7 linked regions of the Homo sapiens genome follow. The protein of the gene in region 1 interacts with the protein of each later gene in a biochemical or structural test. Each region holds a gene or a part of one and is shown in the gene's direction. Other genes may lie near its edges. The genes, in order: UBE2I, XRCC1, SUMO3, HNRNPM, TOP2A, NOP58 and NACC1.

Region 1 (3,500 bases):
AGAATATCAACTGTGATGGTCCCTGGTGGGGCTAATGGTGGCAAACTTTTCTGCTTTTTTGTAAAGAAATAACACAGGGTCCTAAAAGCCCGTATATCCTGGAAGCAGAGGGTCTGCGTCGGAACAGCCGACTCTGGAAGGGCGTTGGCTATGTCCCTGGACGTCTCCTGCAGCTCCTCCCATCTCCCCTGAGTCTGGCCCAGCTGGAAAGGATGTGGGGGCCACAGGTTAAGTGGCCACCCTGGGGCCTGTGTTCCCAGACTGCCTGGCTGTGCTGGGAGTTCTGTCCTGGGAGAGACACAGCTTCGTCTCGGCTGCGGCCGTGTCCCCAAGGCTCTGTTCCCTGTGTGCAAAGGTGGATATGTCTTCCTTTAGTCTCCTCATGGCCACAATTTAATTTTTTTGAAAAGTTTTTGGCCAAATAACCTGGCTACCAACCCGGGGCCCCAGTGTTGGGAGGAGGGTGATGTGGGGAAGGACGTGACTCTGGGACAGTGCCTGCCTCCAAAAAGTGCTTCCTTTCTTCCTCTTCCTCCAGGTAAATTCGAACCACCATTATTTCACCCGAATGTGTACCCTTCGGGGACAGTGTGCCTGTCCATCTTAGAGGAGGACAAGGACTGGAGGCCAGCCATCACAATCAAACAGGTACGGGGCCTCCGCCTCTGGCACCGGCAGGGCTGCCTTAGTCTCCCCTCCGGACACGTGGGTCTGTGGTCATTCTCTGTGGCTGAGGCCGAGTCTCACGGTGTCTCCCTTTCAAACTGCTCACACCCGTCTTGTGTTTTTGTCTCTGGCACAGATCCTATTAGGAATACAGGAACTTCTAAATGAACCAAATATCCAAGACCCAGCTCAAGCAGAGGCCTACACGATTTACTGGTTAGTAGCAGCCCTGGCCCCGCTGGTGGCAGCTCCTCCCCGTCCCAGCCAAGGCCGCCTGGCAGGACGGGAGTGGAGGACACAGGCTCACCCTACGGACAGCCAGGGTCCACGCCTCTGTGGGGAAGGTCGGGGGGCATAAACCCTGTGGGCAGCAGGCACCGTTGCACACCGTCTGCGGTGGGCATGGATGGCGCCGGAGCCGTGTCCCGGGGAGGGAGCAGGCCAGGTGACGGGCTGTCTTGGGCCACTGCCCCAGTGAGTTGTGGCCAGCTAGGAGGGGAAGGACCCTGGGCGTGGGTGCCAGAGGAGGCCATGCTGAGAGGCCTCTCCACCGGCTCAGCCTCCCATGGACCCCAGCCTCCCGCGCCGCCCTTGCTGCTTGTCCCCATCCCCTCTACAACTTGGTTCCTTCTGTGGGGGGGCCCAGCCCAGCAGGGCTCAGTGACGTGATGCTGTCACACGGACCCTGGGCTTCCACCCTGTCCCTGTGAGGTGCTGCTGTGGCTAGAAGGGTCCCCGTGGGCCTGGGGTCCTGTCTGCACCGAGGAGGGCCTGGTGTGAGTTAGGATGCAGACGACAGCCAAACAGTGCTGGGGAAAGCAGGGAGGACCCTGCCCTGAGCAGAGGCCATGCGCCCGCCTGTCCTGTTCCCTCTGCAGCTGTTCTGGGCAGGTCCATAAGAAGGTGGGTTGGGGCCTCCGACCCCCCACTGCTCCGCCTGCAGCGTTGAGAAACCCAGCCCCATCTCACCACGGGTCCCCACACCTCTGAGGGGGTCTCAGGGCCCCCAATGGCCAGGGACCCAGAAGGCTCACCTGCAGCCACCCCACACATCCCTGCCACTGTGGGCATCAGAGGCCCTCTCCCTCCAGGGTGCATCTCCTGGTCAGGAGGGGGGAGGCTGAGGGGTCCCGGTTGCCTTAGGCCCGGCCTGCACAGGTCGTGAGGAAAAGCACCTGGTTTCGGCCGGGCGCAGTGGCTCACGCTTGTAATCCCAGCACTTTGGGAGGCCGAGGTGGGTGAATCATGCGGTCAGGAGTTCGAGACCAGCCTGGCCAACATGGCGAAACCCTCGTCCCTACTAAAAATACAAAAAATTAGTTGGGCGTAGTGGTGGGTGCCTCTAATCCCAGCTACCTGGGAGGCTGAGACAGGAGAATCACTTGAACCCGGGAGGCGGAAGTTGCAGTGAGCCGAGATCCTGCCACTGCTCTCCAGCCTGGCGACGGAGGAATGCTGTCTCAAAAAAAAAAAAAGCACGTGGTTTTGGAGAGATGTGTTTCTCCCTGGATGCGGGCCCAGCCCAGGTGTCTGCAAGGTGCCCTCCCTGGTGGCCGAGGGTGGCACAGAGGCCCCAGGCAGGGAGCAAGTATCACAGCAGCCACCCCAGGCTCAGCCTGGCTCCCCTGCATGGTGGTGCACACCTGTAGTCCCAGCTATTTGGGAGGCTGAGGTGGGAGGACTGCTTGAGCCCAGGAGGTTGATGCGCAGTGAGTTGAGATTGCAGCACCGCAATCCAGCCTGCTTGACAAAGCGAGACCCTGTCTCAAAAAAAAAAAAAAACTCATAGCCGCTCAGTCAGCCAAGCCATTGCTGGAAGTGGCTCGTGGGACGTGGCGTGACCTGGGTTTGTGTGCTGGCCTGCTGTGCCCTAGGAGTCCGTGAAATGCATTCCCTTGGACAGGAAGCCACAGTGCTCGTGGGTGTCCACATGGCCCTTGAGGCAGAAAATGTTTTCTTTTTTTTTTTTTTTTTTTTTTTTAAACAGAGTCTCACTCTGTCGCCCAGGCTGGAGTGCAGTGGTGTGATCTCAGCTCACTACAACCTCTGCCTCCTGGGTTCAAGTGATTCTCCTGCCTCAGCCTCCCAAGTAGCTGGGATTACAGGCACCCACCACCACACCTGACTAATTTTTGTATTTTTAGTAAAGACAGTGTTTCACCACGTTGGCCAGGCTGGTCTCGAACTTCTGACCTCAGGTGATCCACCCGCCTCGCCTCCCAAAGTGCCGGGATTATAGGCATGAGCCACCGTGCCTGGAAAATGATTTCTAGGCCAAGTGTGGTGGCCCAACACCTGTAATCTCAACACTTTGGGAGGCCAAGGTGGGCTGATTGCTTGAACTCAGGAGTTCATGACTAGACTGGGCAACATAGCGAGACCCTATCTCTACAAAAAATTAAAAAATTTGCCAGGGGTGGTGGCTCATGCCTGTAATCCCAGCACTTTGCAAGGCCACTGTGGGACGTTACCTGAGCCCAGGAGTTGGAGACCAGCCTGGGCCACATGGCAAGACCTGCTCTCTTTAAAAAAAAAAAAAAAAAAAAAATTAAGCCGGGGATGATGGTGCATGCCTGTAGTCCCAGCTATTTGGGAGGCTGAGGTGGGAGGACTGCTTGAGCCCAGGTGGTTGATGCTGCAGTGAGCCAAGATTGCAGCCTGGGTGACAAAGTGAGACCCTGTCTCAAAAAAAAAAAAAAAAGCATGCCGGGCGCGGTGGCTCACGCCTGTAATCCCAGCACTTTGGGAGGCCAAGGTGGGCAGATCACGAGGTCAGGAGATTGAGACCATCCTGGCTAACACGGTGAAACCCCATCTCTAGTAAAAATAAAAAA
Region 2 (3,500 bases), on another chromosome or scaffold:
GGACTATAGGTGCACACCACCACACCCAACTAATTTTTTTTTTTTTTTTTAAGCTTTTTGGAGGCAGCTTCCTGAGTAGCTGGGATTACAGGGATTACAGACAGAGCCACAAAGACCTGGCCATTGGGGTTTTATTATATTTGCTTTCTGAATGGGTATTATATGCATATAGTGCAAAATTCAAAAGGTGCAAAAGGGTATACACTAAAAAGAAAATCTCCCCTCACCCTTTCCATCCCTCCCTGCTCCCTCCCCAACTCCTGCTCCCTCCCCAACTCCTGCTCCCTCATTCTTCTCTCCTGATGCAACCACCATTAGCAGTTTTTTTGGGTGGTCTTCCTGGGTCATTCTGTACACATACAAGCATATATACCTACCGCCTCCATCCCTTTTTAAAAAATTCATAGTATATACACTGTTCCCTTGTGTGTTTTTTTTCAAGTAACAGTGTATTTTGGAGATGCACACTGCATGAAGTTCTACCTTATTTATTTATTTATTTATTTACTTACTTACTTACTTACTTACTTTGAGACAGAATCTCGCTCTGTCACTCAGGCTGGAGTGTAGTAGTGCGATCGTGGCTCACTGCAACCTCCCCCTCCCAGCTTCAAGTGATTCTCCTGCCTCAATCTCCCTAGTAGCTGGGATTACGGGCACATGCCACCAGGCTTGGCTAATTTTTGTATTTTTGGTAGAGATGGGGTTTCCCCATGTTAGCCAGGCTGGTCTTGAATTCCTGACCTCAAGTGATCCTCCTGCCTTGGCCTCCCAAAGTGTTGGGATTACAGGCGTCAGCCACGCCGTGCGCAGCCTACCTTATTCTTTTAAATGATGCATACAATTGCATTTCATGGCCGGGCGCGGTGGCTCACGCCTGTAATCCCAGCACTTTGGGAGGCTGAGGCAGGTGGATCACGAGGTCAGGTGTTCAAGACCAGCCTGGCCAAGATGGTGGAACCCTGTCTCTACTAAAAATATAAAAATTAGCCAGGTGCAGTGGTGGGCACCTGTAATCCCAGCTACCTGGGAGGCTGAGGCAGGAGAATTGTTTGAACCCGGGAGGCGGAGGTTGCAGAGAGCCGAGATCGTGCCACTGTACTCTAGCCTGGGTGACAGAGCAAGACTCTGTCTCAAAAAAAAAAAAAAAAGAAAAGATTGCATTTCATGGATGTGAAACAGTTTTTTAGCAATATATCTCAGGAACTTTGCCTTCCTGTGCCATGTTTGTTTCAGGAACAGTTCATATCAGAACTGTGTCTCCCTGAGAAAGCTGCATGCACACGAACCCAGGCCATCGGTGATAGTCATCTTGTGCTCTTATCCTCACAGCTGATACATACTGAGCACTCATCTCTTATTTTGAGAAAAATTCACATAAAATTTACTGTTTTAACCATTTAAAGTGCACATTTCAGCCAGATGCGGTAGCTCACACCTGTAATCCCAGCACTTTGGGAGGCCAAGGCGGGTGGATTGCTTGAGGTCAGGGATTCGAGACTAGGCTGGCCAACATGGTGAAACCCCATCTCTACTGAAAATACAAAAATTAGCCGGGGGTGGTGGTGCGTGCCTGTAGTCCCAGCTATTCGGGAGGCTGAGGCAAGAGAATCACTTGAACTGGAAGGCAGAGTTTGCAGTGAGCTGAGATTGCACCACTGCACTCCAGCCTGGGCAACAGAGTGAGACTCCGTCTCAACAAAAAACATAAATAAATAAATAAATAAAGTGCACATTTCAGGGTTTTTTTTTTTTTTTTAGCATATTGACAATGTTCTTCAACCATCTCCATTCTCTAATTCAGAATATTTTCATCACTCCAAAAAGAAACCACATAACCATTAAACAGTCACTTCTTATTCTCTCCCCAATGTTGCCCTTGGCAACCACTGATCTACTTTCTGCTTCTCTGGATTTGCGTATTCTGGACTTATAAATGTATACGTGGTCTTTTACACTTAACCTTGTTACACTTTGCATAATGTTTCTGAGGTTCATCCATGTTGTAGCATATATCACAACTTCAGTTTTTTAAATAACTGGATGATATTCCATAAATATACTGTACAATGTTTATCTATTCATCAACTGATGGACATTTATTGGGTTGTTACCATGTATATATAAACCTTTTTTTTTTTTTTTTTTTGAGATTGAGTCTTGCTCTGTTGCCCAGGCTGGAATGCAGTGGTGCAATCTCGGCTCACTGCAACCTCTGCTTCCCAGGTTCAAGTGATTCTCGTGCCTCAGTCTCCTGAGTAGCTGGGACTACAGGCGCATGCCACCATGCCCAACTAATTTTTCTGTTTTTAGTAGAGACGGGGTTTCGCCGTGTTGCCCAGGTTGGTCTTGAACTCCTGGGCTCAAGAAATCCACCTGCCTTGGCCTCCCAAAGTGTTGGGATTACAGGCGTGAGCCACCACCCCAGCCTCCATGTATAAACATTTTTATCAGATTCTTAAAAAGTATTTATTTACTTTTTTTTTTTTTTTTTTTGAGACAGAGTCTTGCTCTGCCACCCAGGCTGGAATGCAGTGGCATGATCTTGGCTCACTGCAACCTCCGCCTCCTGGGTTCAAGCAATTCTCTGCCTCAGCCTCCCGAGTAGCTGGGATTACAGGCGCCTGCCACCATGCCTGGTTAATTTTTGTATTTTTACTAGAGACGGGGTTTCACCCTCTTGGCCAGCCTGGTCTTGAACTCTCCTGACCTTGTGATCTGCCAACCTCTGCCTCCCGAAGTGCTAGGATTACAGGCCTGAGCCACCGTGCCTGGCCACTTTTTTTTTTTTTTAGATGGAGTCTCACTCTGTCACCCAGGCTGGAGTGCAGTGGCATGATTTCGGTTCGCTGCAACTTCTGCCTCCCAGGTTCAAGTGATTCTCTGGCCTCAGCCTCCTGTGTAGCTGGGATTACAGGTGCACGCCACCAAGTCTGGCTAATTTTTATATTTTTAGTAGAGACAGGGTTTCACCATATTGGTCATGCTGGTCTTGAACTCCTGGCCTCAAGTGATCTGCCTGCCTTGGCCTCCCAAAGTGCTGAGATTACAGGTGTGAGCCACTGTGCCCAGCCTGTTGTTTTCTCTCTTGAGACAGAGTCTCACTTTATCACCCAGGCTGGGGTGTAGTGGCTCGTCTCAACTCACTGCAACCTCCACCTCCCAGGTTCAAGTAATTCTTGTGCCTTAGCCTCCTGAGTAGCTGGGATTATTGAGGTGCGTGTCACCACACCCAGCTAACTTTTTTTATTTTTGGTAGAGACAGGGTTTTGCTATGTTGGCCAGGCTGGTCTCGAACTCCTGGCCTCAAGTGATTCTCCCGCCTCCACCTCCCACGGTGCTGGGATTACAGGCGTGAGCCAGTGCTCCTAGCCAGGACTTTTTTTATATACAAAGAAGAAATGTCAGGGAGTGCCTGTTTAAAGTAGAAATAGTTATATATGCAGTAGGAATTGTTCATTTAAAATACAAGCATCTCCATCCTACCACATTTAGGAGCT
Region 3 (2,946 bases), on another chromosome or scaffold:
GAATGTTTTATGTGGAAATATTTTTGCAAAACATTTAAGATTTTAAATATTTACTATTCAGTATTTAATAAATATTGAAAACATCTTTGCAACAAGTATCCATTTGTACCTACTTGAGGAAACCTACACACCGCTGAGGCAGTGGCAGCTCTGGGAGTGTTCACCAGGGAGAAGCTGCTGAGAGCAGCTGAGCAGGGAGGGCCTCGTGGAGTCTCTGGGGCTTGACTGGGGGTCAGGGGGCTGGCTGTGGACAGGTGGACCGAGAGGCAGAGGGAGCCCTGCCTGGGGGCTCTCCCTCCAGCCCATAGTGTCGGTGGCAGGGTGAGGGTGGCCGACAGCCCTGATGGGACTCCTTTCCATCTGGGAGCATGACTACTTCCAGCCTTGCTGAGTCTGTGTAGGAACTGGCAGAAGCTTCCTCTTGCTTAGAGGATGGAAGAAGATCAGGGTGGGTGTTTTGCGCCCACTGTGTCAGGAGGAGAGAAGTGAGCGGGGGTGTTTCACTACCTTGCCTGGGCTTTAAATGGGGAGGGGCGGGGAGAAGCTGGCAATGGACCCTCACTTGACGGGCCCTTCTGTGAGCTGGGGGCTTTGGCTTTCATGGCATGGTCCCCCGCACTTGGTATAAAGCGCAAGGCTCCTGTGGGTCCTAGGACTCAGTGCTGCTAATCAGATGTTCTTAATTAGAATCTGATTTTGTGTAATTTTCAGTAAGAATTTTAGACATTTCAGTTTATCTTCTAGACTCAGTTTTTCTCTCAGTTAACATTTTAGCTTTGAATCTGCTTTTGTGAGTTTTGTTAGGGGAAGCTTGTTGAACCGTAAGGGCTGTAGTGAGCATACAGCAATGCCTCTTCCATGCGTGCTGAGCTGCAGTGAGGGGACGGACAAGAGCCAAGGTGTGACCAGGTGATGTCGCTAGTGTCAGGGAACACTCATGCCAGTGAGGATCTTCCCACTCTCTGATGAAAACTAACAGGCTCCCCTCTCTCTCGCTGTGCCTGTTGTGACAACCATGACAGCTGGAGATGGAGGACGAGGACACCATCGACGTGTTCCAGCAGCAGACGGGAGGTGTGCCGGAGAGCAGCCTGGCAGGGCACAGTTTCTAGAGGGCCCGTCCCCAGCCCGGGCCGTCCATCCTCGCATTGCTGTTGAATGGTGAGCACGTGACCATGCCGACCACAAAGGTGTCTGCGGAAACTCGAGGACATTCACCACGATGATTTTCCTCTCTTTGATGTACTTCAAGTGCAACTCAAAACTATATCTGCAGGGATGAATCTGTAACTTAAATTGGGCCAATCAGAATTGTTATCTTTGTTCAGGTAAAATGAGTTGCAAGATATTGTGGGTACTTTTGTGTGCTCATTTGTGTTTTCCCCCCCTCCTACAACATTTTTTTAACCCCAAAATTATAGCCTGAATGTTCGCTTTTAGTCTGGCCAGGGATCTGACTCCTGAGTTGGTTGCCTCTCCCCTGCTCACTCCAGTCACATAGAGAATTGGTGTTTCCCGCAGTGGGGATGCAGCTGTTGGACAGGTATTGGGGGCAAGGTTGGTAGGGAGGACAGACTGTCACTTGCTGTTACAGGCACAGGTGATTAAAATGCTAAATATTGCAAATTTAAGCTTTGTCAGTATATGGAAAAGTTGAAGGGAAAATACTGGAATGCTTCTTCAAAGGTTAAAAAATAACCGAGTCTTTTGGTAATTTGACCCCACGTGCTCTCTGGCCCTCAAGCATGTAACCTCGGGGTCTGAGGCCCAGGACCCACCCCCCTGCCACCCCTCCCACCCCACTCCCTGCTCAGTACCTGGCGTTGGTACACAGGCAAGGATTGGCACAACCAAAATTGGCCTTTTTCTCCCTCTTAATATTGAAGAAATTCCCACATTTCTCATTTGGTAATGGTGTTGTGGCCTCAGATTTCTTCTAGTATTTGCTTCTGATGAATGATTATGGTCTATACATAAAAAAGTAAGACTAAGTATTGCTGAATTTGCAGTTATGTTGTCGTGTATAAGAGCTACTTCCAAGTGTGGTTACAAATGAACCCATGGAATGATGACTTCATGTTCTTCTCGTGGGTTTGTGCCGTGCTGCTTTCCAAATAGGTATTGAATTTATGCATTAGTCTGGTGATTTCAGTTCTGTGAAATATTTTGGGATCTATACCAATTAAACATTTTCATAGTTCTGCCTATTGTCCTTCCCTGAGGCTCCATTGCTGCTTGGTGGCCATTCTCTGCCTTTTTACAGTCACCTGAACAATGACCCATCATCTCTTGCTTGCTTGAAATCTTGCTGAAATGTTCTCATTTCCTGTTTGCTGTATGGGCTCGGGTGGGATGTTTGTTGGCTCTGTTGTGTTTATTCACCAATTTGTACATTATTTGTTGTCCTTTACTACTGTAAACAGTAAATATAGTTTGGTATTCTGTCTCTTGGCTTCTACTAAACACTGCATTTGAAGGTTGGGGCATACTGGTACAATTCAGTGTTTGAATTGACCATTCCAGGCAGCCACTGCACTGAGAAACTTTGATTGAAAAGCTAGCCGCTGGAAGGTTAGTATTCGCCTGGCAGCTCATTTCCCCTCCCCTGGCACATCACCAATGCTAGTCCAGCCTTCTTCCTGCTGAGGGATGCATCCTCTCCTCAGAGACCTCCTGGCTGACAGCTGTCTGAGCTGGCATCACTGTGACATGTTACCCTCCCTCTCCTGGGTTTCGTATGTAAAGAAAGGGTGGATTTTAGAGGCAGGTGAGCTTGGGTGTTAGTCTAGGACATCTCTCGTTTTCTGGTGTTTGAATGTAAGTCAGCTTTCCTTCTGCCATGGACAACTTACCTATCTGCTTTGAAACTGAACTGACATTGATTTGGCTTTAAGAATTTCCCAGTGTGCAGTGGTGTAACAAAACCCAGGTTGAAAATGAGCTGTT
Region 4 (3,500 bases), on another chromosome or scaffold:
GAGATTGGGCCACTGCACTCCAGCCTGGGCGACAGAGCGATACTCCTTCTTCAAACAAACAAACAAACAAGAACACTGAAGTTGCTATAGAGTTTTAAGGTTGGAGCACTGGCAGCCAGCTGATGGGCAGTGAATTTGGATTTTTATCTTGAAAGCCTTTGAGAGACAGGAGAAAAATAGAAACTTGGTTCTTTGGAATTCTTTCTCTACCAGGAGTGGAGTGTGCAGTAGACCACAAATGCAGTGAGCTAGCAAGCTTGATCTGGGAACCCAGGTTGGAAATCTTGTTTTGCAGTTACTTCTCTCCTGGGTGTGAGAATAGGATTTGCTTAATTTTGATGAGAAGTCTGTTCCAATTAAAGTCAGCAAAGATTCAGAGTTAGGGTATAGTCAGGGAAAAAAAAGTTCATTTTAGGGGAATGTATAGGTTTTTAAAATTTTTTTAAATGTAGTATCATATATAAAATAAATGACTTAACCTGCTCCCCTTCCTGAGTAATTTTTTTTTTTTTTTGAGATGGAGTCTCGCTCTGTTGCCCAGGCTGGAGTGCAGTGGCGCGATCTCAGCTCACTGCAAGCTCCGTGAACCGCTTCCCGGGTTCACGCCATTCTCCTGCCTCAGCCTCACGAGTAGCTGGGACTACAGGCGCCCGCCACCATGCCTGGCTAATTTTTTTAATATTTTTTTTTAGTAGAGATGGGGTTTCACTCTGTTAGCCAGGATGGTCTCGATCTCCTGACGTCGTTATCCGCCCGTCTTGGCCTCCCAAAGTGCTGGGATTATAGGCGTGAGCTACCACACCTGGCCCCTTCCTGAGTAATTTTGTGGGTGAATAAGAAACAGATGGATTGGTTATTTATAAAAATAAAAATATATATTTAGGGTAGATTCCTGAGGAGGTACTGTTAGAGTTGACTCCATTTGACAATCAAGAAAACTTTCGTTTTAAACACTTAAACCCAGGTTCAGGAACCTGACCTAAAGACTCCAGGGGAGGCCCTCCTGACTCCCAGGCAGCTTGCTGCTTTCATGATACTACCTTGGTAACCACTCAGTAAACAGCCGTTTGAATTGTTTTATTTAAATCAGATTCTCTATACAATGCATTTGAGTGTTTGCTGTACTTTAAAGAGTGATTGTTTATTCAAAAAGGATTTTGGAGACACGTCAGATTGTGAGCTCAAGATTAGAAGACAGGGTTTTGGATTATTTGAATGCATGCTGCCAGGCCTTTGCTTTCACTCAGCTCTTTGATTTTATTCTGGTTAGGGAAAGAGATACTAGCCTGCAAAGATTAGCTTGCTTGTTTTTTTGGGAGGGGGGGTTCTCCAATGGACTTCCCCATTACCATATTTTGCAGTCATAGGGTTGAAAGCTAAATTGTCCCTTTGCTAGTCTGTAATGATTATGATGCCTAGGTTTTCTCAGCCTTGGCTCTGGTTTGCTAGTTTTAAAGCCTGAACAGTAGAAGGCTAGGAGTGAATCAGTCCCCCTCTCTACCCTTCTCAATAAAATTATTGGTAGAAAAATACATCATTGCCTCACTGTGTGCTAAGAGTCTCTTTTTTTTTTTTTTTTGAGACGGAGTCTCGCTCTGTCGCCCAGGCTGGAGTGCAGTGGCGGGATCTCGGCTCGCTGCAAGCTCCGCCTCCCGGGTTCACGCCATTCTCCTGCCTCAGCCTCCCAAGTAGCTGGGACTACAGGCGCCCGCCACTACGCCCGGCTAATTTTTTGTATTTTTAGTAGAGACGGGGTTTCACCGTTTTAGCCGGGATGGTCTCGATCTCCTGACCTCGTGATCCGCCCGCCTCGGCCTCCCAAAGTGCTGGGATTACAGGCGTGAGCCACCGCGCCCGGCCTAAGAGTCTCTTTTAAAGCTGTAAGCGTGTAGGTAGTAGCCTCCATAGGACCGAGGCCTAGTGACGACATGGTGACCCCAGCTCTTAGCCACATGCAGTACTGCTTCCCTAGATGAGCTGCTTTTTGTTTTGCCATTCTTTGTTGATTGTCACAGTGTCCCTCTGAGCTACCATGCATACAGGTTGCGCTGGTTTTGCTGGTAAAGCGCTAGAGACAGAAAGAGCTTGAGTCATGTGGGTAGTTCAGTGGTGGCCTTGGAGCTGGAATGGTGCTGTGAATAGTGCTCTCCACACCTTACATGCATTAGAGCAGCGCAGGACTTGAGGGATTTCTGTGAAGAATCACTTTATATAAGGGATGGTTCTCACACGGGCAGAGGGGTCCTTGTCCCTCAGGAGATGTGATCACAATTTCAGGGTATTGGGATTGCCATTTCAAACTGCACCCTTTCCTTGATTAGAAACTCCAAAAGTAGTGAGTGTTACGCATGGGAACTGCATGGAGACCTTAAGAGAGGGTAGGCAGTCACTATTTGGTGGTGGTCTTTTGCAGATTAGGCACTCAATCTTTTTATTAGGGTTTTTTTGTTTTTTGAGATGGAGTTTCACTCTTGTCCCTCAGGCTGGGGTGCAGTGTACGATCTCTACTCACTGCAACTCCAGCTCCTGGGCTCAAGCGATCCTTCCACCTCAGCCTTCTGAGTAAATAGGACCACAGGCACATGGTACCATGCCTAGCTAATATTTTGTAGAGATGGTGTTATACCATGTTGCCCAGGCTGTTCTTGAACTCCTGAGCTCAAGTGATCCGCCCACCTTGGCCTCCCAAAGTGCTGGGATTACAGGCATTAATCGTATTTTTAATTTAATTTAATTAATTATTATTATTATTATTTTTTTTTTTTTTGAGATGGAGTTTTGCTCTTGTTGCCCAGGCTGGAGTGCAGTGGCGCTATCTCACTTCACTGCAACCTCCGCCTCCCGTTCAAGTGATTCTCCTGCCTCAGCCTCCCAAGTAGCGAGTAGCTAGGATTACAGGCACCCGCCACCATGCCCGGCTAATTTTTGGTTTTGTTTTGTTTTGTTTTTGAGACGGAGTTTCACTCTTGTCGCCCAGGCTGGAGTGCAATGGCATAATCTCGGCTCACTGCAACCCCCGCCTCCTGTGTTCAAGCAATTTTCCTGCCTCAGCCTCCCGAGTAGCTGGGATTACAGGCGCCTGCCACCACGCCCAGCTAATTTTTGTATTTTTAGTAGAGACGGGGTTTCACCATGTTGGCCAGGCTGGTCTCAAACTCCTGACCTAAGATAATCCACCTGCCTCGGCCTCCCAAAGTGCTGGGATTACAGACGTGAGCCACCGTGCCTGGCCTAATTTTTGTATGTTTATTAGAGACAGGTTTCCACCATGTTGGCCAGGCTGGTCTTGAACTCCTGACCTCAGGTGATCTGCCCGCCTCGGCCCCCCAAGGTGTTGGGATTACAGGTGTGAGCCACCGCGCCCAGCCAAAAGTTAAAAAGACTTGCAGAGTTAAGTTTTTATATGTACGTATACATATACATGGACTAGAGAAGAATCTTCCCCTAATTTTGTCCTGAAGATAGTGAGAAAATAGGATTGGACATGTTAAAAAAAGAGC
Region 5 (3,500 bases), on another chromosome or scaffold:
AGAAAATTGCTTGAACCCAGAAGGCAGAAGTTGCAGTGAGCCGAGATTGCGCCACTGTACTCCAGCCTGGGTGACAGAGCAAGACTCCATCTAAAAAAAAAAAAAAAAAAAGGAGAAAGCAGGGCTATCCAGATGGTTTCAGAAGGTTATTTGTTACTTAAATCTTCCTAATAACATTTGTTTCTCAACATTATTTTAACATAAGAAAAAAGGCCAGCACTGTGGCTCACACCTGTAATCCCAATGTGCTTTGGGAGGCTGAGGCAGGAGGATCACTTGAGATTAGGAGTTCAAAACCAGCTTGGGTAACGTAGCAAGACCTCATCTCTACAAAATGTTTTTTTTAAATAGCCAGGCATGGTGGTGTGGGCCTATAGTCTCAGCTACTCCGGAGGCCAAGGTGGGAGGATCACTTGAGACCAGGAGTTCAAGGCTGCAGTGAACTATGATCATGTACCATTGTACTCAGCCTGCGTGTCTCTTAAAAAAAAAAAAACAAAAAAAAAACCACCAAAAGCTTTATTTCTTAAATTTAACATGCAAATTTGTATTACTGCACTTCAGTATAGATGCCTAGCTCATTGTAATCAGTTGGTTGGATAAGTGTGCATCACTTCCTTTCATATTTTGTATGTGAGTTTACAAATATATATGTATATACATGTTTTATTTTTAGTTTCTCCCTTGTTTTCCTCAAAAAGGTTAAGTGGTAGAATCAGGAATAAAACCCAGTCCTTCTGTCTCCACACCTTCCTTTTCAAGGTGTGTTTTAATTACATCTTCACTATTGTTGATAGTATACTAGGTTATGGAGCAATTTATCACTAGTTTTTAAGATGTAACAAAATGAAATCAGTTTAACTGTTGGGTGTTTAGATATTGTAATGTTTTTGTTAACATTTAAACTTGCTTTCTTATATCCCTTCTGTAGGCTGTTGAAGCCAAGGAAAAACAAGATGAACAAGTCGGACTTCCTGGGAAAGGGGGGAAGGCCAAGGGGAAAAAAACACAAATGGCTGAAGTTTTGCCTTCTCCGCGTGGTCAAAGAGTCATTCCACGAATAACCATAGAAATGAAAGCAGAGGCAGAAAAGAAAAATAAAAAGAAAATTAAGGTAATACTCTTGTGGTGGCTCACACCTATAATCCCAGCACTTTGGGGGCCAAGGTGGGTGGATCACTTGAGGTCAGTGGTTCAAGACCAGCCTCCCAACATGGTTGAAACCCTGTCTCTACTAAAAATTAAAAAAATTAGGCGGGCATGGTGGCAGGCGCCTGTAATCCCAGCTACTCGGGAGACTGAGGCAGAAGAATCGCTTGAACCCGGGAGGCAGAGGTTGCAGTGAGCCAAGGTCACACCACTGCACTCCAGCCTGGCCAACAGAGCAAAACTCCATCTCAAAAAAAAAAAAGAGGTAATACTCTTAAAAATATTATGCATAAAATATTGATGCATATGTCCACTTAAAATTGAAAAAAAAATGTATAAAATTTTTTTGTTGTTGTTGTTGAGATGGAGTCTCGCTGTGTTACCCAGGCTGGAGTGCAATGGCAGGATCTCAGCTCACAGCAACCTCCGCCTCCCGTATTCAAGCGATTCTCGTGCCTCAGCCTCCCAAGTAGTTGGGGGCACATCACCACACCCAGCTAATTTTTGTATTTTTAGTAGAGATGGGGTTTCACCATCTTGGCCAGGCTGGTCTCGAACTCCTGACCTCAAGAGATCTGCCCACCACGGCCTCCCAAAGTGCTGGGATTACAGGCGTGAGCCACCGCTCCCAGCCAAAAATGTATAAAATCTCTAATCCCATAGTTCAGAATTTATTCTATATCCAACCCTAACTTTGCTATCTTTTAGAATGAAAATACTGAAGGAAGCCCTCAAGAAGATGGTGTGGAACTAGAAGGCCTAAAACAAAGATTAGAAAAGAAACAGAAAAGAGAACCAGGTATTACAACATTTTTAGAAAAATGGTATAAAGTGAAGATTAAATTGTGTTTGTTACCTAGTACATTCCACATAGATGTTCAAAACCTTTTTGTTGAATTGAGAAACGTGAAAGAGGACTGTATCTCAATTCTACTTGGACCTCTTTTTTTTTTTTTTTTTTTTTTTGAGACAGTTTCACTCTTGTTGCCCAGGCTGGAGTGCAATAGCACAATCTCGGCTCACTGCAATCTTCACCTCCTGGGTTCAAGCGATTCTCCTGCCTCAGCTTCCTGAGTAGCTGGGATTATAGGTGCATGCCACCACGCCTGGCTGCTTTTTGTATTTTTAGTAGAGACGGGGTTTCACCATGTTAGTCAGGCTGGTCTCAAACTCCTGACCTTGTGATTTGCCCGCCTTGGCCTCCCAAAGTGCTGGGATTACAGGCGTGAGCCACTGCCCCTGGCCTGGACCTCTTTAATATCGTCCTTGGGATTTGATTCATTATAGAAAATATTTTGTAATGAAGTAGTTTGTTAATTTGAATTCCTTAATTGGGATCTAAGAAAATACCCAGTTTATTAGATTTCATTTTCTAGCCACTTACGAGGTTCTAGTATACAAAGTTTCTTAAGAAAAGTGACTACATATTAGTAATGTTTGTAGTATCTCTAGAGTTCAACATCATGCTTCGGATATAAATAATGTCCACTCAATGAACTAAATAGAATTAATAATTCTGTTAATCATTTGATAATGCCTTTACTGTCTACTTTTTTTGAAACATCTTTATTGAGATATTCACATGCCAAATTTGCCCATTTAACGTATACCATTTGGCTGGGCGCCATGGCTTATGCCTGTAATCCCAGCACTTTGGGAGGCTGAGGCTGGCGGATCACTTGAGGTCAGGAGTTCAAGACCACCCTGGCCAACATGGTGAAACCCCATCTCTACTAAAAATACAAAAATTAGTTGAGTGTGGTGGTGCGTGCCTGTAGTCCCAGCTACTCGAGAGGCTGAGGCACGAGTGTCGCTTGAACCCAGGAGGCAGAGGTTGCAGAGAGCCAAGACTGTGCCATTGCACTCCAGCCTGGGTGACAGAGCAAGACTCCAACTCAAAAATAAAAATAAAGTATGCCATTCAGTGGTTTTAGTATAGACAAACAGTTTTAATACAATTTATTGCCCCCCAAGAAAACTGAACTCATTAACAATCATTTGCCATTTGCCACCAACTCCTCTCCACTGGGTGACCACTAAAAAATCTAGGGGCATTTCCTATAAATTAAATCATATAATATGTGGTCTTTTGGAGCTGACTTCTTTACTTAACACATTTTCAAGGGTAACCCATGTGGCAGCCCATATATTAGTACTTCATTCTTTTTTTTTTTTTTTTTTTGAGGCAGAGTTTCGCTCTGTCGCCCAGGCTGGCATGCAGTATGCAGTAGTAGTGAGATCTCGGCTCACTGCAACCTCCGCCTGCTAGGTTCAGGCAATTCTCCTGCCTCAGCCTCCCGAGGAGCTGGGATTACAGGCACGCACCACCATGCCCAAATAATTTTTGTATT
Region 6 (3,500 bases), on another chromosome or scaffold:
ACTCCACACTTCCAACCTGTTCTAAAAAACGCAAAATAGAACAGGTAGATAAAGAGGATGAAATTACTGAAAAGAAAGCCAAAAAAGCCAAGATTAAAGTTAAAGGTTAGTTTGAATTTTTTTTTTAACACAACTTATACTCACTTCTTTAGAACTGTGGATTTTGTGAGTCTTAAAAGTACATGCCATCCCACTTTATTATAAAACTGCTCATTGAACGCTAATGGTGTTTTAATAATGCCATTATGTTCTCTGGGAATATGATATTGTTAAATTTATCAGACTGCACAGAGGAAATGTGAGAAGTTTAGTCAAATTAGGTATTTTACTAAGAGTTCCAAAACTTCATTTCTCCTACATGAACTATTTGGAGAATTAAGAGAAAAAAGGAACGTGTTTTCTAAATTGGTTGTTGAAAATTTTTTGTTTTATAGTTAAGAATGAATACAGAATTGATGGAACAGTGATTTTCTTCATTGTTTCTCTTACACGGAGCGGACTGGAAGGAATACATACTGGTAGCCTGCCGTCATAGTTACAATATCTAACAGGTGCTCACCAGTTAACTAGGCTGTCTTGTGAAGTTGATAAGCAGGCGCCCCATTATTAGTTACACCTGGGTTTATTGAACACCTACTAGCAAGTCTAGCAGAAGAGTAAAGCATTAACACAATGATTGCTTTAACTTGGTTTCTAAGTAGCTTAGTGGTCAAAAGTATATGATCTACAAATGTGGATAGTATACTTGATAGAGAAAACAAACAATTTATTTAACTTTTATGCTTCTTTTTATTGAAAAGTAAGGAGATCCCTAAACCCACTAGTAGCATTTGAGGCACCAAACTCTGTCCTTTGTATCCTCAATTGTGTATCCAATAAGCTTTTCCAATTTATTTGTCAATTTTTCATCCCACAATTTCCCCCCTCTTTTTTTACCCCCAAGACAGAATCTTGCTCTGTCACCCATGCTGGAGTGCAGTGGCATGATCTTGGCTCACTGCAACCTCCACCTCCCAGGTTCAAGCAATTTTCCTGCCTCAGCCTCTTGAGTAGCTGTGATTACAGGCACGCACCACCACGCCCAGCTAATTTTTTTATTTTTAGTAGAGACAGGGTTTCACCATGTTGGCCAGCCTGGTCTCAAACTCCTGACCTTGTGATCCACCCACTCCGGCCTCCCAAACTGCTGGGATTACAGGCATGAGCCACCACGCCCAGTCCTCTCCCATTTTCTATATGTGACAATTCCAGTTGCTTTGGCCATCAACCTTGACTTTTTTCTCATAACTCAATCTAGTCTGACAGCAAATCCTCTCAGTTCCACTTGAAAGTATGTAGTAGCCACAGTGGAACCACCACTAGCTTTTTAAATCTAAATTTGTTCCAGCCATACTGGCCTGCTTGCTATTTCCTGAACCTACTATCCATCCACTTATCCCATCTGCCCTCCAAAACGCCTTACGACTTAAGCATCTGCTCTACTCTACCTGGACTATTTTCCCTCAAGATACATGTATCATTCATTCACTCCCTCACCTCTTCTAGGTGTTTGCCGACCATTCTGCCTAAAATGGCCATATATACTGCCCTTTTCCAACATTCCCCTTCCTGCTTTATTTTTATTCTTACCACTTTAATATCTATTATGTAATGTATCATTTATGTCTCCACTCTGCCACTAAAATAAAAAAGATTCATAGGGAAACGAATATTTTTGCCTCTTGTGCCTTGCTCGAATTGTTTAGTACAGAGTCTGACATGAATATTATTTGGTTGCTGAATTGCTGAATTTCTCTCTCTTTTCTTTTTCTTTTTTTTTTCTTTTTTTTTTTTTTTTTTTTTTGAGACAGAGTCTCCCTCTGTCGCCCAGGCTGAAGTGCAGTGGCGTGATCTTGGCTGACTGCAGCCTCCGCCTCCTGGGTTCAAGCAATTCTCGTGCTTCAGCCTCCTGAATAACTGGGATTACAGGCATGCACCACCATGCCTAGCTAACTTTTTTGTATTTTTATTAGATACAGGATTTCACCATGTTGGCCAGGCTGGTCTTGATATCCTGACCTCAAGTGATCCTCCCGCCTCAGCCTCCCAAAGTGCTGAGATTACAGGCGTGAGCCACTGCACCCAGCTGGTCACTGAATGTCTAATGATAGCTATGTGTTGAGTCCTTATTGTAATGTGTGCTAAGCATTATACTTAGTGCTTTCTATGCATCATCTTTTTAAATCAGTAACAGTCCAGTAAGATAAGACATTCTTAAGTTTTATAGATAGGGAGCTTCACCAAGGGTAAATACAATTTTTCAGGGTTGCAGCAGGTAGATTAAACCCAGGCCGTCTGACTTCAGAGTGCAAGCTCTTAACCATTTCTAATATAATTGACTTTCTTCCCAATAATGATTGGAGATCAGATGACCTTTGTTTTAATCCTGATTTTTATACATGACTTCATGATCGTGAGAAGATTGCTCTGAGCTCTATCTATATCATTCGTTAAAGTTAGTGGTAGGCCTTGGAGAACCTTCCCAATTATAAAATAAACAAAACAAACATTGGGTAGTTGATGAGAATGACAGAAAAAAACTAGGACTCAAACGTTTTTGGAAGGAATGAGATCTGATACAGTGTTAATTTGTTGTGCCTTTACACTTACCCTATTCAGTTGAAGAAGAGGAAGAAGAAAAAGTGGCAGAAGAAGAAGAAACATCTGTGAAGAAGAAGAAGAAAAGGGGTAAAAAGAAACACATTAAGGAAGAACCACTTTCTGAGGAAGAACCATGTACCAGCACAGCAATTGCTGTATGTTTGTTTTTAATTATCGGTTTTCACTTGGAGGGGCCAGTTCTCTATATTTCAATCTATTTTCTATATCAGAAATGAGCAGGCATTTTAAAAAATGGTTTTCATTGATGGAGAGGTAAAAGTGAAATGGCTTTGTTGTATTTATATTATAAAAGGCCATTTCCCAAATCTAGAATTTATTACTAAAAATCAAGTTTGCATTGAGGGGAGGAGTATGATTTGCTCAAGCTTACTTTTTTTATAGGTGGGGTTTTTATATTTTCAATGTGATTACTCACCCATACAATTTCAGCTCTTTCAAAGCATTCTTGTTGGCTATTTTCAGAGTCCAGAGAAAAAGAAGAAAAAGAAAAAAAAGAGAGAGAACGAGGATTAACAGAAAGGAATTACGATTATATCACCCGGACACACATCATGCTTAAGATTCAACTGGGAGCATACCAGGGATGCTCTCTAACGTAATCAAGGGAAGGTTCAGTAAGACAAAGTGATTTATCATCTATAACTTCAAACCTATTTGTCTTGACATCAACTCTGTTAACCTTATGTCATCATTTCTTAGAGTCTTTGATATACAAATAAAATTTTCTTTGTATTTTAAGACAATTTTGTGATCTCTTTATATCTTAGGTAGAGAATCTTTGGCTCTTTCTGTAGTTTGCCATGTGATGATTATTGTTTTGATAATTATAACTGAAAAGT
Region 7 (3,500 bases), on another chromosome or scaffold:
TGAGTATGTACCAGTCTTCTTCTGAGTGCTCTAAACATTTTGTCTTCATGAGGGAAGGAGTGGGGGGATGACCCTACTGTGGAGACAGAGACTCTAGTACCATTCACAAGAGAGTGAAGCCCTGTCTCTGGGTCTCCTGGATCTGCCCATCACCCCCAGATGGAAGTTCAGAACCCCTTGGCCTGCATCTAGGGTATTTAAAAAATCTGGCCTCCTGGCCGGGCAGCAGGGAGCCCCAGCAGGTTCTTGAGCTGGGCTTTGAGGAGATGTGAGTTTTGGTCAGCCTTACAGGGTCTATTGAAGGAGTCTGCCTGGAGGCCCGGGGGTTTGGAGAGAGTTTGGGGTTGGCCCAACATTGTCTGACCCTAGATTTCATCAGTGTCATTGCCAGAGCCTGTGTGGAGAGAGGGATCCCATCAGGCTTGGTGGGGCATATTGCTTTTGGGATGGTGGTGAGCCACCGGGGCTGGAAAACATGAGTCAGTGTTCATGCCACTCTGCGTCCTCAGATCCTCCGTGCCCCTCGTTTCTCCTCCTAGGTTGCTCTCAGCACTTGTACACACTCGAACTCATTTAAGCCCGTGGCTAGCAGGTCCTGCCTGTTATCATCATTTGACACACAAGGCAACTGAGGCACCCTAGTCCTTCCTTCACACAAGCTGCAAAGTGGTCTGGCTACCACCCCTGTGCCGCCTTCCAGCCACTTTCATGTTCCTCGTGTCTGCATTTGCTCCTCAGTCCTCTCAGCCGCTACTGCCTTCCCCTAGAGAACCCTCTGGGCCGCATGAGGTGGGGCCGGGAGGTGGGACTGGGCCTGCTTGCACATTAGGTGGGGTGAGGACCAGCCGAGCCGGCAGAGGTGACGTGTCTTAGGTTGTGATCTGTGTGTGGTTGTGGTCATGTCCCTCCAGCCTTCTCATGTGCTGCCTCCTTGGCGAAGGTCTCAGTTCTTAGAGACCTGTGCGTCTTCTCTGAGGGCTTTGACTGTGTCCAGTTCGTGGTTTCTAAATCGAGCAAAGGGAGAGGGTAGGTAAGGGTGAGCAGACACGGTCTAGTAGAGAGTGAAATTTCACACTTAGCACCACCCCTGTCTCAGCCATGAGACTCTGGGCAAAGGTCTTTACCTCTGAGCCTCAGTGTCCTCCTCTGATAAGGAGTGACAAGTGGGCACAACTATACTGCTGTGATTCGCAACTGGGTACAGTCCTACCTCCGGGGACACTTGGGGAATGTCTGGGGACATTTTTGGTTGCCCCTGCCGGGGGGGGGGGGGTGTGCTGCTGGCATCTAGTGGGTTTATAGGCCAGGGATGCGGTTCAACATCAGACAGTGTGTAGGGCAGCCCCCACCACAAAGAATGATTGACGCAAATGCAGTGGCTGGGTGGGGAATCTCCACTGTCTGGTTATCATGAGGTTTGCGGGAGAGGTTGGCGTCTGGGGTGTGAGTGGACAGTGCTGTGAAGGCTCTGGGGAAAACCCCAGCGATCACTGCCTGTTAATCCCATGAAATGTGCGAGGTCTGGGAGATGGTGAGAGGCATAAGATGTCTTCTACTCCCAGGGAGTTTGCGGCCCAGCACGGGGCCAGGGGATACGACTAACAGCAGCTGGCATTCATGAGCACCGACTACGGGGCGAGCGCCGATCGGCCTGTGTTCTTTGGTTGTTTAATCCTTGAAATAGCCTTGTGAGGTGGCTGCTGCTGTCAGCCCATTTTCTAGATGGGAGACTGATATGGGGGGTGAGCAGTATTGAGGGTAATTCTGAGTGACAAGCTCTATAAGGGATTTGAGCCTAGTACAATAGTAGGATTCAAAATCTTAGGTCCTGCGTGGTTCCCTAGCACAGCCCAGCAGGCCCCTCTCCCAGGATGATCCCCATCCCTCCACCCTCCTTTGTGTTAGCGGCACCAGGGTCACCTCAGGGCCTTTGCACTTACTGTTGTTCCCTCCACCCTTGGTTGCCGCCACTGCTGCCCTGTCTTTTGGGTATGATCTGATTACACGCAGGGAGTGGGATGTAACTCCGAAGGGTGGGCTTATGGTTGGAGTTGGTGGGGAGGGAGCGGGCAGGCTGCGAGCTCCATGAGGACGGAGGCAGAGCTTCTGCCAGGCTCTCCAAGGAGCTGGAGCTGCTGCCTGCAAAGGGAGGCCAGATTGCCGAGGGCTGCGAGGAGGAGCGAGTGGGAGGAGGGAGAGGCAGCACGCGGAGACTGCTCATTCCCGGAGATGGTGGTTGCAGGGAGAAGGGGCTAGAGAATAGCTGCAGTTGGGAGGATTGGGAAAGGAAGAATGAAAAGAATGAAGAAGGCCTTCCTTGGGGATTAGAGAGAGGGCACCCCAGACCCTGAGGTGGAGGTCCTCAGACAGGCAGAAGACCCTGTTTCTGGAGAGGACACATCCAGTAGCTCAGGTAAAGAGCCCCAGCTCTGGGCTCGGCCGGTCCGGGGTTCCCGTCTGGTCTCTGCCTTGCTTCTCTGAACACCAGTTTTCCCACCTGTGAAATGGGTCTAGTCACAGCTGCCTCACATTTTTGCCTGATTCGGGAGCCAGACGGCCTGGGTATAAACCTGTGCCTGCCATTCACCAGCTACATGTTCCCCACCTCTGGCTTCACCTCTCTGGGCCTCATTCCCATCCATGAAATGGCAGGCAGGCTCATTTCTTCCTCAGAAACTGTAAAGAAGAGTAAGTTAAATGAGCCTGTCTGAGCCCTGGCCAGGTATGGGCCCAGTCAGTGAGGCTTGAGTAGGGGACACTGTTACTAATCCTATTCCACCATGGATTTAACAATAGTCATTCAGGGAAAGAGATAACGAATTAAATCTGTGGGTGTATAAGAAAAAAAATACAGGCCAGGTGCAGTGGCTCACGCCTGTAATCCCAGCTCTTTGGGAGGCTGAGGTGGGCGGATCACTTGAGGCCAGGAGTTTTGAGACCAGCCTGGCCAACATGGAGAAACCCAGTCTCTACTAAAAATACAAAAATTAGCCAGGCATGGTGGTGTGTGCCTGTAATCCTAGCTACTCAGGAGGCGGAGGCACGAGAATTGCTTGAACCCAGGAGGCGGAGGTTGCAGTTAGCCGAAATCACGCCACTGTACTCCAGCCTGGGCGACAGAGGAAGACTGTCTCAACAAAAAAGAAAAAAAAATACTGATGCAAGATGAGGTCTTGCTGTATTGCCCAGGCTGGTCTCAAACTCCTGGCTTCAAGCGTCTTCCTGCCTCAGCCTCCCGAAGTTCTGGGATTACAGGTAGGAGTCACCGCCCCCCACTGAACAGTTTGTTCTTCACTAACTGTTTTCCTGGACTGCCTTCACATTCAGCCCCTACAGAGGGGTCTTTCTGGTTCTGGGTCAGGCAGGCAACCTGAGTAGCTGCCAGGATCCAGCCACATCCTGCTGAGCTGCATGAAGGACTGTGGGGCTCTCTGGGGCCTTTGTTCCTTGTTACACTTGGAGTTGCTGGTCTCCCTTAACTGGCTTGTAGGTCTTAGCCC

The links.
Region 2: of the proteins of UBE2I (region 1) and XRCC1, one has a biochemical effect on the other in vitro, tested with the Homo sapiens proteins (2 studies listed by BioGRID).
Region 3: the proteins of UBE2I (region 1) and SUMO3 form a complex in vitro, tested with the Homo sapiens proteins (2 studies listed by BioGRID, with this or other methods).
Region 4: of the proteins of UBE2I (region 1) and HNRNPM, one has a biochemical effect on the other in vitro, tested with the Homo sapiens proteins (2 studies listed by BioGRID).
Region 5: the proteins of UBE2I (region 1) and TOP2A form a complex in vitro, tested with the Homo sapiens proteins (2 studies listed by BioGRID, with this or other methods).
Region 6: of the proteins of UBE2I (region 1) and NOP58, one has a biochemical effect on the other in vitro, tested with the Homo sapiens proteins (2 studies listed by BioGRID).
Region 7: of the proteins of UBE2I (region 1) and NACC1, one has a biochemical effect on the other in vitro, tested with the Homo sapiens proteins (2 studies listed by BioGRID).

Annotation. Positions count from the first base shown.
Region 1 is NC_000016.10:1,319,636-1,323,135, forward strand, and holds part of UBE2I (SUMO-conjugating enzyme UBC9), read left to right. Parts: intron 1-538; coding exon 539-648; intron 649-802; coding exon 803-882; coding exon of another isoform or gene 883-1,024; exon of another isoform or gene 1,025-3,500. UniProt on the Homo sapiens protein: Accepts the ubiquitin-like proteins SUMO1, SUMO2, SUMO3, SUMO4 and SUMO1P1/SUMO5 from the UBLE1A-UBLE1B E1 complex and catalyzes their covalent attachment to other proteins with the help of an E3 ligase such as RANBP2, CBX4 and ZNF451.
Region 2 is NC_000019.10:43,565,528-43,569,027, reverse strand, and holds part of XRCC1 (DNA repair protein XRCC1), read left to right. Parts: intron 1-3,500. UniProt on the Homo sapiens protein: Scaffold protein involved in DNA single-strand break repair by mediating the assembly of DNA break repair protein complexes. Negatively regulates ADP-ribosyltransferase activity of PARP1 during base-excision repair in order to prevent excessive PARP1 activity.
Region 3 is NC_000021.9:44,805,117-44,808,062, reverse strand, and holds the end of SUMO3 (small ubiquitin-related modifier 3 isoform 1 precursor), read left to right. Parts: intron 1-1,022; coding exon 1,023-1,112; 3' UTR 1,113-2,446; downstream 2,447-2,946. UniProt on the Homo sapiens protein: Ubiquitin-like protein which can be covalently attached to target lysines either as a monomer or as a lysine-linked polymer. Does not seem to be involved in protein degradation and may function as an antagonist of ubiquitin in the degradation process.
Region 4 is NC_000019.10:8,447,975-8,451,474, forward strand, and holds part of HNRNPM (heterogeneous nuclear ribonucleoprotein M), read left to right. Parts: intron 1-3,500. UniProt on the Homo sapiens protein: Pre-mRNA binding protein in vivo, binds avidly to poly(G) and poly(U) RNA homopolymers in vitro. Involved in splicing.
Region 5 is NC_000017.11:40,393,897-40,397,396, reverse strand, and holds part of TOP2A (DNA topoisomerase 2-alpha), read left to right. Parts: intron 1-931; coding exon 932-1,114; intron 1,115-1,857; coding exon 1,858-1,948; intron 1,949-3,500. UniProt on the Homo sapiens protein: Key decatenating enzyme that alters DNA topology by binding to two double-stranded DNA molecules, generating a double-stranded break in one of the strands, passing the intact strand through the broken strand, and religating the broken strand.
Region 6 is NC_000002.12:202,300,263-202,303,762, forward strand, and holds the end of NOP58 (nucleolar protein 58), read left to right. Parts: coding exon 1-105; intron 106-2,658; coding exon 2,659-2,795; intron 2,796-3,123; coding exon 3,124-3,174; 3' UTR 3,175-3,399; downstream 3,400-3,500. UniProt on the Homo sapiens protein: Required for the biogenesis of box C/D snoRNAs such as U3, U8 and U14 snoRNAs. Part of the small subunit (SSU) processome, first precursor of the small eukaryotic ribosomal subunit.
Region 7 is NC_000019.10:13,121,264-13,124,763, forward strand, and holds part of NACC1 (nucleus accumbens-associated protein 1), read left to right. Parts: intron 1-3,500. UniProt on the Homo sapiens protein: Functions as a transcriptional repressor. Seems to function as a transcriptional corepressor in neuronal cells through recruitment of HDAC3 and HDAC4. Contributes to tumor progression, and tumor cell proliferation and survival.